Homo sapiens: one gene and its partners. The protein of the gene in region 3 purifies or fractionates together with the protein of the main gene of each other region. This does not show direct contact. Each region holds a gene or a part of one and is shown on either strand. Other genes may lie near its edges. The genes, in order: SLC6A15, GLB1 and SFXN5.

Region 1 (3,751 bases), on a different chromosome or scaffold from region 3:
TCCTTAATATCACAGCATTAAAAGCATAATAATAATTCCTTAATATCATCAAATATACCTAATCAATGTTATATTTTCTGAACTCTTCTTTTTACATTCCGAATTTCTAAAAAGGTCTACATATAATAACTAATTGTTATGAATTGTTATGTCTCTTGAGTCCATTCTTTCTTTCTTTTTTTTTTTTTTTTTTGAGACAGAGTCTCACCTGTTGCCCAGGCTGGAGTACAGTGGCACAATCTCGACTCACTGCAACCTCATCTTCCCAGGTTCAAGCAATTCTCCTGCCTCAGCCTCCCGAGTAGCTGGGATTACAGGCGACCACCATCACGCCCGGCTGATTTTTGTATTTTTAGTAGAGATGGCGTTTCACCATGTTGGTCAGACTGCTCTCGATCTCCTGACCTCAAGTGATCTGCCCACCTTGACCTCCCAAAGTGTTGGGATTACAGGCTTGAGCCACCACACCTGGCCCAGTCTTAATCTCTATGTTTCTCTTCCCTTTTTCATTTCTTCCAAGTTGCTCCAGAATCTTAAAGGACATCTTCAATGTAAGAATTCTACACCTGCCCTTTAGAAAAAATATGAACTTTGAAGACCAAGAGACCTCATTTCAGATCACAGTTCTGTGTTCTTTTGATGTATATCTTAATCTCTCTAAGCTTCATTTTTGGTGTTTTCCAAAAATATAATATAATACCCACCTTTGAGGGTTATTACTAGAACCATAAACAATGGATGCTTAGCATACTACCTCACATATGGTACAAAATCGACAGATGCATCTATTAGTAGTAGTATTTTTTCTTCTGTTGTTATAAATAGTGTTATTCAGGAACACTAGCATTAAAAAGAGAGATTCTTTAGTAAGTCTATCATGAATAACGAACTGTCTAAATGGAAATCTAAATTACAAATGTATTTATTTACAGATCAGTCCAAAAACAATATCAAATTCCATCATGGTACAGGTTATGAGTTTTGAGTAGCCTAGTAAAGCTTAGAGAAACCTGGCCTTGAAATGAAGGTCAAGGTTACAGTACTGGCTCTACAGCTAACATATTGTATCCTCCTGTAAAAGAAGGGGCAGTTTCCCATCTGTAAGATATGGATCATGTTAGTTAACAAGGAGTATTTTTTGATTACACACTTTATTTTTTAAGAGCAATTTTAGGTTCACAGCAAAATTGAGCTGAAAGTAGAGAGATTTCCCATATAGCTCCTACCAATATATGTGCATAACCTCCTCCATTATCAGCAACCCCCACGAGAGTGGAATGTTGGTTACAATTGATGAACCTACATAAGTTAACACATCATTATTACCTAGAGCCCACAGTTTACACTGGAATTCACTGTTTGTGTAGTACATTCTCTGGATTTGGACAAATGTATAATGACGTGTGTCCACCATTACAGTGTCATACAGAGTAGTTTCACTGCCCTAAACATTCTGTGCTCAGCGTATACATCCCTGGATCTGGCCCAACCCCTGTTAACTGCTGATGTTTTTACTGTTTCCATAGTTTTACCTTTTCCATATTATAATATAGGGGAATCTTACAATATGTAACCTTTTCATATGTGACTTTTTTCACTAAGTAATGTGCATTAAAATTTCCTCTGTGTCTTTTCATGGATTGAATAATATTTCATTGTCTGGATGTATGACAATTTATCCATTTACCTACTAAAGGATATCTTGTTTGCCTCCAAGTTTGGGCAATTATGAATATAGTTGCTATAAACACCCACGTGCAGAATTTTAAGTGGGCATAAGTTTTCAACTCCTTTGGGTAAATACCAAGTAGCATGATTGCTGGATTATACACTAAGAGCTATTACTACTATTATTATACAGTACATGATTATTAAATGTAAGTTCTCCTAAGCTTCCTGACCTGGAGCTTTTGGCAACCACAAAAAACATTCTCTAAGCTTTGTTATAAAGCTCATTCAATACCCACAATATTCTTTATGCTGCTTAAAAGGACTCTGGCCTTCACTTAAGGTGCATGCATTACTACTTTACATAGGGCTGTAATGAGCTTGGTGATCTTACTACCTCTCAGTCCATGTATGTGATTAGAGACAGTGACTATAAAAAGTATTGGACAAATCCTCCAAAGGTCTTTTTCCCTTGAGAGAACTCTGGTGCTTCACATCATTTCAAATACATACACTTTTCACATCAGTGTACCTGAATGGTGTGAAAAGTATGTGTATTTGATATGAATTTATGAATAAATAGTGAATTTATTCATTATTTATGCGTATAGTGAATTTAAGTAATGACTCTATATAAAAATAATGTTTCTGTGCAGCAAATGACATATACATCTCAGACCTGGGAAAATATCATTTCCCAATATTGTCCTGCTATATAAGGCATTATGACACATGCACTCCTCTTATAAATCAATTTAGCAATATAATTAGGAGATAAGCTTTAGAGTTAAACAGAAATGGACATGAGTCCCAGGTCTGCTGCTGTCCAGGTGGGTGACAGGCAAGTCACAGGGTGTCTCTCTAAGCTTGATTTTCCTTATCTGTGAAATGTAGATAACAATAAAGAACTCAAAAGAAACTAAGGTTCTTGGAACTCTGCCAATACTTACTAAATCCTGAAAGTTAGCTATTTGATAACCAGGACCAAATCAAAGATCTAAAATTCTACATACTATTACATCCTATATAATTCTATTTGCCCAACAGGGAAATGTAATTTACCAAAACTGTTGAATCAGTGAGAGCCTGCAAAAGGTTTGATTTTTTAAAGAATTGTTCCCTCTATTCATTTATTTCCTCTTCTAAATGAAATGAACATTGATAATTGATGTTTTCAAACTAGAGATTAAAAGTGAATACATAAAAGCAAATATACTTACTTATCTATGCCATAAACAAAGCATACAGCAATATTCTCCAAAATGACTACAATTAGCAGAGGCAGTGTAGCAGAATAATCATCAAACATTGTAACAAAGTAATTTCCAGAGCGTTGCACAAATATCAGGCCAATACAAAATGCCAGAAGACAACAGATAACTAGACAAAAGAAATAAATGAAAAAATGAGACTCTATTCAGAGACAAGGCCTTTAAACTTTATTATAAATTATTATATTCAAACTTTTAAAACTTTTATAACATGTCCATCATATAAACAGGCAATACCTTTCCTGATACATGGCATATAACCTATTAGGAATTAGGTTACCTGGGTGTAGCCTCAACATTCATACAAATTTATTCTAAGACAGTAATTCATCTCCCTGAGCCCGTGGAAACTCATTTACCAAGTACAATAATAAATGAGTCAAAGTTTAGAGAAAAATTTAAAAGTATAAATTTCCATACTCTATTCGTATAATTAATAGCAAAGTGACTTCTTCAGGCACCAAATATTTATAGGTCATTTATTCATTTAATAATGTTCTACAGTGTTGAAATATAGATGAGATTTTTGAATTAATAATGAGACTAATATTGCTTATATTATTATGAAATATACATATTATATATTTGATTGAAATATGGTTACTTTTCAAGCATAAGTGGAAAAATCTGACCAGACTTAACCTCAGCAACAATCCACATTTATATCTTTATCTTGCCTGAACAGATTAGTTTGGAAACAAATTATAATGGAGTTGAGCAATCTGATCATCCACATAACATCTAAGAAAAATCATCTAAAAAGAGTTTCCCCAGTAATAGCTAAGAAACAGATGCATAAATTTCTGACCAGC
Region 2 (3,751 bases), on a different chromosome or scaffold from region 3:
GCTTCATGCTATGGTCAGGACACAGGCCAAGCCAACTCTTGACCAAATCGCAGGTGAACAAAGTGGAGGTTTGGTCCTTTCTCAAACCTCAAGTTCCATTTCATAAGCATCCAAGAGATGGGCCCTCACATGCCGGGTGGACTGTGCACCTGGTAGGTAAGCTGGGAATTGTTTTCCCTGGATCCCCTTCCCTGGATGGTTCTGGGTTAGCGTTGGTCAGAAGAGGCCCTTGCTTGAGATTGGGAGGGTGGAGAGAAGCAGCAGCCATTGCTCTGGGGAGGTTATCGTGCAGTGGTGCAATCCTGGCTCGCTGCAGCCTCCGCCTCCACCTCCCAAGTTCAAGAGCTTCTTGTTCCTCCGCCTTCTGAGTAGCTGGGAATACAGGCGTGCACCACCATGCCCAGCTCATTTTTGTATTTTTGGTAGAGATGGGGTTTTGCCATGTTGCCCAGGCTGGTCTCCAACTCCTGGCCTCAAGAGATCCGCCCACCTCGGCCTCCCAAAGTGTTGGGATTACAGGCGTGAGCCACCATGCCTGGCCTTTTTCTTTTTCTTTTTTCCTTTTTGAGGCAAGATCTCACTCCAGACACCCAGGCTAGAATGCAGTGGCACCATCACGACTCACTGTAGTGTCAACCTCCCACCTTAGCCTCCCACATAGCTGGGACTACGGGCATGCCCCACCATGCCTGGCTAATTTTTGTACTTTTTTAGAGATGAGGTTTCGCCATGTTGCCCAGGCTGGTCTCAAACTCCTGGTCTCAAGTGATCCTCCCCCATCAGCCTCCCAAAAAGTGCTGGGATTACAGGCATGAGCCACCTCGCCTGGCCATGCACATGTTTCTTACAGGAGGGGAATGCTAGGAATGGAATTGCTGGGTCATGGGATATGCATGTGTCCAACTTTAGTGATACTATAAAGAGTAGCTATTTTTTAAAAAAGTGTGAAGGAGGAATTGAATTTTCACATTTAATTAATTTAAACTTAACCATATGTGGTTAAAAATGAACGTTCTTGTAAAGAATATTATACAAGGCCAGGTGTGGTGGCTCATGCCTGCAATCCCAGTACTTTGGGAAGCCAAGGCGGGCAAATCACTTGGGGTCAGGAGTTCGAGACCAGCCTGGTCAATATGGTGAAACCCTGTCTCTACTAAAAATACAAAAATTAGCCAGGCATGGTGGTGGGTGCCTGTAATCCCAGCTACTCAGGAGGCTGAGGCAGGGGAATCGCTTGAACCTGGAAGGTGGAGGTTGCAGTGAGCTGAGATTGCACCACTGCACTCCAGCCTGGGTGATAGAGCAAGACTCAGTTAAAAAAAACAACAACAAAACAAACAGAAAAAACCCAACAATATTATACAAGAAGCTACTGCACTGGACTACAGAGCTAAGGTATGGTGAGATCCTAGTGACTTCATTATTAGACCATCAGTCTTCCATTTCTCTCTATCCTCACAGCCTGACTTCCAGAGCAAGTCATAAATCAATGTTGTCTTAGACTGCTGCAGCCTCCTCACAGTCTCTTGACTTTATTAACTCTAGAATCTAGGCTCTGCATAGCTGCCAAAGTGAAAATAGGATTCTTTTCACACATTCCTGTTTCAAACCTCCTTCCTGTGGTCCACAGCCCATACCTTCCTCCTTTCCTCCTTGTGTCTGCCGCACTCCCCCTTGCTCACTCCACTCTCCACTACTTCTTGTTCTTTCCTTCTCTTTCTTCTCCTTCTTGTTCTTCCTTTCTCTCTTCTCTTCTCCTCTCCTCTTCTCCTTCTCCTTCTTCTCTTCTCCTCCTTCCTGTCTTCTCTCTTCTCTCTCTCTCTCTCACTCTTACATCTTGCTACATTGCCAAGGTTGGACTCCAGTTGCTATTCACAGGCACAATACAGCCTCAAACTCCTGCCCTCAAGCGATCCTCCTGCCTCAGCTTCCCGAGAAGCTGGATCTTCAGATGTGCATCACCACACACAGCTCCCCAATTACTTTCAGTTAGTTTTGCTTGGGCATCAGCTCGTCCCCATGTGCAAACACTACTCACCTCAGCCTGAAGCCTTCTCATCACTCAGGCAGGGCCACGACCCTCCTCCTTAATGCTGGGCTTTCCATTCCAAGTCACTCACTATCCTTTCATTTTTTCTTTTTCTTCTAGTTATTATCATGATTTGAAATTCATATCTTTTGTTTGATGACTAGTTTATGAGCTATTTCCAGCTATAACACAGGCTCTAGGAAGGGAAAGTCTTTGTCCATTTTGTTTGAGGCGAGATTCTCCGCACGCAGGAGAGTGATATTCAATATACACTTAGTAGCACTCATGGCTGCTGCTACTTGTTGATAATTCTGCCAAGAAAAGATTCGTTGAAGAGGTGACATGAAGCCCTTCTGAAAGAATTCTTCACGTTCCTCTGCTCCCAGTTTAAGAGTTTTAAAGAATATTGTTCACTAAAAGAAAAACATTTGCCTTCCCTCCTTGATTAGAACCAATGAAAAACACTTTAATATAATTTACCTTTAAAAATTCTATTTAAAAAATATATACATTGATTTTTATTTCTCTTAAAAAGTTATGCTTTTGCAATTATTTTTGGTGGGGAGGTATGCACGTGTTGCTGAATATGATCTAAAAGTAGATACACTCTTAATGAAGTCAGCCCCATGGGGACCAAGCAGTGGTTTCTGGGGCTTCCTAAGGCAGTCTCAGTTAAAATAGTTCCATGACAAAGTGACTTTCTCTGACCACGGCTTGACCCTGGCAGACTCTCCACCCTTTGCTGTAATCACTAAGGCAATAATAATAGTTTCATAAATGTGAGGTTCCTGGAAATGCCTGACCTACTTTTTTGTTGATCAGACAGATACATGTGTTTGTCTGTCTGTTTTAAACTATCTGGATAAATGGAATTTAAAACAAAAGTCTCCCTCCCTCCCTCCCTCCCTCCCTTCCTTCCTTCCTTCCATCCTTCCTTCCTTCCTTATGAGGCAGGGTCTCACGCTGTCATTCAGACTAGACTGCAGCTGCACTATCATAGTCCATTGCAGCCTCGAATTCTTGGGCTTAAGCGATCCTCCTGTGTCAGCCTCTTGAGGAGCTGGGACTATAGGTGTGAAACTATCGGGGGGAGGTATGCACGTGTTGTTGTTAGCCATCATGGCCAGCTAACTTAAAAACTATTTTTAAAAATAGACATAGAATCTCACTATGTTGCCTAGGCTTGTCTCAAACTCCTGGCCTCAAGTGATCCTCCTGCTTTCACCTCCCAAAATGTTGGGATTACAGGTGTGAGCCTCTGTGCCTGGTCTCACTACTGTTTTAAGTTGTAGTTTAAAATTTTCCAAAATTTTTTGGGAGCTCCTTTAAAAGCAACAATAAGCTCAGGGTGAATGCTGCCTTTGTCACACTCTGAAAGAAAACATTTAGACACTTGCAGGACTTAAAATGGGAAAGACAAAGGTCCAGTTCCCAAGGTTAAAGGCTCTCACACACCGAACTCATGAATCACTGTGATGCTTACCTGGGAGAAAGAGAAGAAAAAGAGGAGAATTGAAAAGAAAAAAAGGTAAAAGCCTCTTACAAGGCTTGCTTAGAAATAAGAGGTTAAATAGATCTCAATGAAATACACAGAAGATTAATTCTCCCCTTCCTTCAGAACCCCAAAAGGCTCTGCAGCTGACGCAAATCACACTTTTTTGCTTCCTCCTCAGTCTTAAAGTAATAAAATTAAATAACTTTATGGTTTCTCTATATTTTGGG
Region 3 (3,751 bases):
GGGCAAGATCAGCCCCTTCTTGCAAAAGGCCTACAGGGGGTTTGAGGAAACCAAGTCGTCACACAGCAAACATTTAGAAGACCACAGGGCAGACTGTATGGAGAGCTATGAGGATCTGACTCAGGTGGCCAAAGAGATGTGCAGGAGGAAGCCTGCGATCTGATGGGACCAGAGAAGAAGGGAGCAAGTGTTTGCCAGAGAGGCAGGCCCGACTGAGCCTTTAAGAACGAGCAGAATGGGGGTGGGAGCGGGGACAGGCAATGTAATAAGGTCACTCAAGTCCAGGCAGGGACACCCCGACACTCTCGCCCTAGATGGCCTCCTACACTGGAAGGAAGATGCCAGTCTCGCCTCGGATACCTACATGCTGAGATGGCCTACTTTTAAAAGGAATTAAAGTCCTGTTAAGAAACACTGGGGACATTTTTTTCAGACGGCTCAGGAGCCAAGTTCCCTAATTATCAGCAAAGCTCGGGGCACCCCCTTGCTGGAACCAGTCCCCTTCCACCACAACAACAAAAAAAGAAAAAAAAAGCCACCGCACCGACCTTAGCACAATTTCCTTTCTTCCTTCAAAGTTCTTTTCTGGCCGCCTCGGCTGCCGCCCACCCCTGGCAAGCCCCGGTTCACTTCAGCGGTCTCTCTGCCTGTTTCCTAATAAATTCCGTCTCATTGGTGCGGGAGGCGCGGGAGCCCGAGGGTCTGCGGCGCGGGAGCGGCCCCTCCCCGGCTCCGGTCTCCGGGCCCAACCAGGCGCCCGGGCTCCGCGTTCCACCCCCGCCTCCGCAGTCTAGGGCCGAGTCGGCGACGCCCCAGAGGAGGTCCCGGAGGGAAAGGACCCCTGTCGCCGTGCCCCGAAGAGCCTGAGCGGGTGTGCCCAGAGCCAGTCCCCGGCGGCGCGGGGGCCCGGGCGCGGGAGACCCTCCGCGGAGAACACAGCGAGGAAGAGGCTGGGGGGGGGTTCCCAGGCGGCAGCCCCTCGGAGGGACGACGGCCCCAGGGGATGACACAGCGTTTCCCCCGCACGCCCTGGCTGCGTCCCCTCAGGGCATCGGCCGGCTTGCTGCGTCAGCGAATCCTCAGCCCGAGATGGAGAGCAGGGACGGGGGACGCCGGACCGCCGCTCGCCTCGGCACTCGCCCCCTCAACCTGCTGCGCGCGCCGAGCCCGGCTTGGGGGCCAGGGCTGGGGAGTGACCGCGGGGCGCGACGCTGCCCGGCGGCACCGCCAGCAGCTCGAAAGGAACGTCAGTCCCCACCGGGGGAAAAAGTTAGAAGGCATCCCGGCCACGCCAACTTCCCATCCAGGGCCAGACTAGAACTTTGCGTCCCGGGCGGGCAGCTGCACAACCCGGAGCGACCCTGAGCAGCCGCTCGAAGCCGGGCGCTCGGGACCTTGACCGCAGCCGCCGGTGGCCAATCACAGGGCGCCGCGGGCGGGAAAGGCTAGAGGGCGCGGGCAGTCGGGGAGTGACGGCGCCAAGGGCCAATAGGAAGCCAAGATGGGAGTCCGCGCCCGCCCCGTTGACCAATGGGAAAAGGGTGACTGTGACCGAGGTTCCCCCCCTGGCGCTAGCTGCAGGCTCCGCTGGCCGCGGGTGGGAGACCCTTGGGCGGAAGGGGACTTTGGAGGGGAGTTTGCTCGTCCTCTCTTTGCCACCCGCCGGCCCGCAGACCACAGCCCGGTCCTCACCTGCTGGAAGCGGGGTTTGCCCAGTTGGAAAGGAGGTGCATCGCTCGAGGCGCTAGCGGCACTAGCCGCCGCCGCCGATGCTGTAGTCGCTGTATCCGCCATGGCCACTGACGCCCGCAATCTCCGGCCCTTTTAAAATGTCCCTCCTCGGCCCCCGCCACAGCTGCCTCTCCCGATTGGCCCTAATCAACCGCAGCGAGCGGGAGGCGCAAGGCGTTGTGGGGAGTGTAGTTTTTCGCGTCGCGGCGCTTACAACCGTAGACTGCGGAGAGTTGCGGCCGTCCGGAGAGGTCTCGGTGCCCGCTGTCCGCGTTGCAAGGTGCAAGGTCGGCAGTCCAGGAAAGGTGTTCCTGTACGACGACCACGGGCCACCCCTCGCTGCTTAGTTGCCCCCAGAAGTTAGAGTTGCTGCCGTGGGCGTCGCTCCTGGGGCCAGGCAGCGCAGAAGGGTCCCATTCAAGGGGGAACCTGGGACCAGATGGGCAAAGACTCCAGGCGGAGTAGGGTTAACCTCGGAAGGCTTTCTCCAAGGAGTTGCACTGCGGACCTTCTCGTACTTTCCTCCGTCGCCACCCTGCCCACTCGTCCTGTGCTCTCCGGCTGCCCTGACACTCAGTTCCTGGAGCATGCTGGGGCCTGCCCGCCTCCCGACCCCTGAACATTCTGTACCCGGAAGACTAAATCTTCGCCTGATGCTGGCTTTCTGGCTTTAGCCTAAACATTGCATTTCCCAGTCCATCACTCTGCTTGCACAAAATCCCACAGAGGCTCCGTGGCACCCAGCACTTCTCTTTTGCACTCACAACTACTTACTGTTCTGGACAGTCTTTCTTACTGTAAAGTTCACAGGGCAGGGGCTATGACTTTTTGATTCACTTCAGTTTTCAGAGCCAGACATAAAAGGGCTCACAGTAGAGACTCAAATAAGTGTTGGCTGTGAGTTCATCAGTGGGGGATTAAGAGCCCTGGCAGCTTTCACCTTGTCTGGCCAACCAAGGAAGATCCCTCCTGGGCCTAATTCCTGGGCAGGAGGAGAACTTGGGACTAGGGTGGGTGGGGAGGGTGTTAGGTAAGGGGGAGTATTACAGATTGTGGAGTAAGGATCAGTATGGATAATAAACACATACAGTTGTAGAATGGATTAGCTGAAGATTCCCAGCTGAATTACCTGGTCAGTGAGCCAGACTTCGGGAGCTGCCTGTTTTGCCCAAGATGACAGTAGAAATATTTGGTCTTCTAGGGAACTCCACTTTGGGTCTCATTAGTCTCGTGGTGGAGTGCAGGGTTGGCTCATGTCTGCCAGTGTTTCTGGACACTACATGAGCTGTAGCAGTCAAAGTTTTTCATCCTCTAGTAGTTGAACCACAAGAAACACTTTTCATAAAGCTAGGGGGAGATTCTAGCTAGCCACGAAGAACAATTTGTATCTTGGATTTGTATCTTATCTTAGAGATTCTATCTAGCCATGAAGAACTATTTGTATCTTGGATTTGTATCTTATCTTCCCCTGCTAGACCATGCAACTTGAGAATAGGAATCCATTTCTTACCCTCTGTATTACCAATAAATGGGCCCATCTTAGGTGCGCAATAAATGTGGGTACCCTGGGAGTCAGAAAAGACTAAGTTCAGGCTGCTGGGCAACACTGTGCTGCTGCCCCCTTATAAGGGGCAGGGACAGTGTCATCCAAGAATCCCATCACCTTGATTTAAGGTGCTTTCTCCCACAGCAGCCTCCTGTAACTGTTCATTCCAAAACAGGAACACAACAGAGCCACCTGCAGTACATGAATGTTTTATTCTTCATAAAGTGCTTAAAACATGAAGAACAAGCTCTTTATAAAGAGCCTTAACTAGGAAGACAAACAGCAAAGCAGAACCATGCCTGCTCCCTGCCCAACCCACCTGCAACTTTCCTCCAAGTGTGGCTAGGAGAAGAAACATCAACAAGGACCCTGGGCTTCGATTCAAAAACTCCTCTGAAGCCATCCATGCCCTGGGCATTAGGGAGGCCCACAAAGGTCAGGGCCAGGGCTGGGAGTGAATAAAGCCCAGAGGAA

The links.
Region 1: the proteins of SFXN5 (region 3) and SLC6A15 purify together in Homo sapiens (affinity purification with mass spectrometry; 2 studies listed by BioGRID and IntAct, with this or other methods). This does not show direct contact.
Region 2: the proteins of SFXN5 (region 3) and GLB1 purify together in Homo sapiens (co-immunoprecipitation; 3 studies listed by BioGRID and IntAct, with this or other methods). This does not show direct contact.

The regions. Positions count from the first base shown.
Region 1 is NC_000012.12:84,864,146-84,867,896, forward strand, and holds part of SLC6A15 (sodium-dependent neutral amino acid transporter B(0)AT2), read right to left. Parts: exon of another isoform or gene 3,085-3,751; intron 3,049-3,084; coding exon 2,889-3,048; intron 1-2,888.
Region 2 is NC_000003.12:32,999,410-33,003,160, forward strand, and holds part of GLB1 (beta-galactosidase isoform a preproprotein), read right to left. Parts: intron 1-3,751.
Region 3 is NC_000002.12:73,069,912-73,073,662, forward strand, and holds the start of SFXN5 (sideroflexin-5), read right to left. Parts: upstream 1,802-3,751; 5' UTR 1,795-1,801; coding exon 1,693-1,794; intron 1,414-1,692; exon of another isoform or gene 549-1,413; intron 1-548. UniProt on the Homo sapiens protein: Mitochondrial amino-acid transporter. Transports citrate. Does not act as a serine transporter: not able to mediate transport of serine into mitochondria.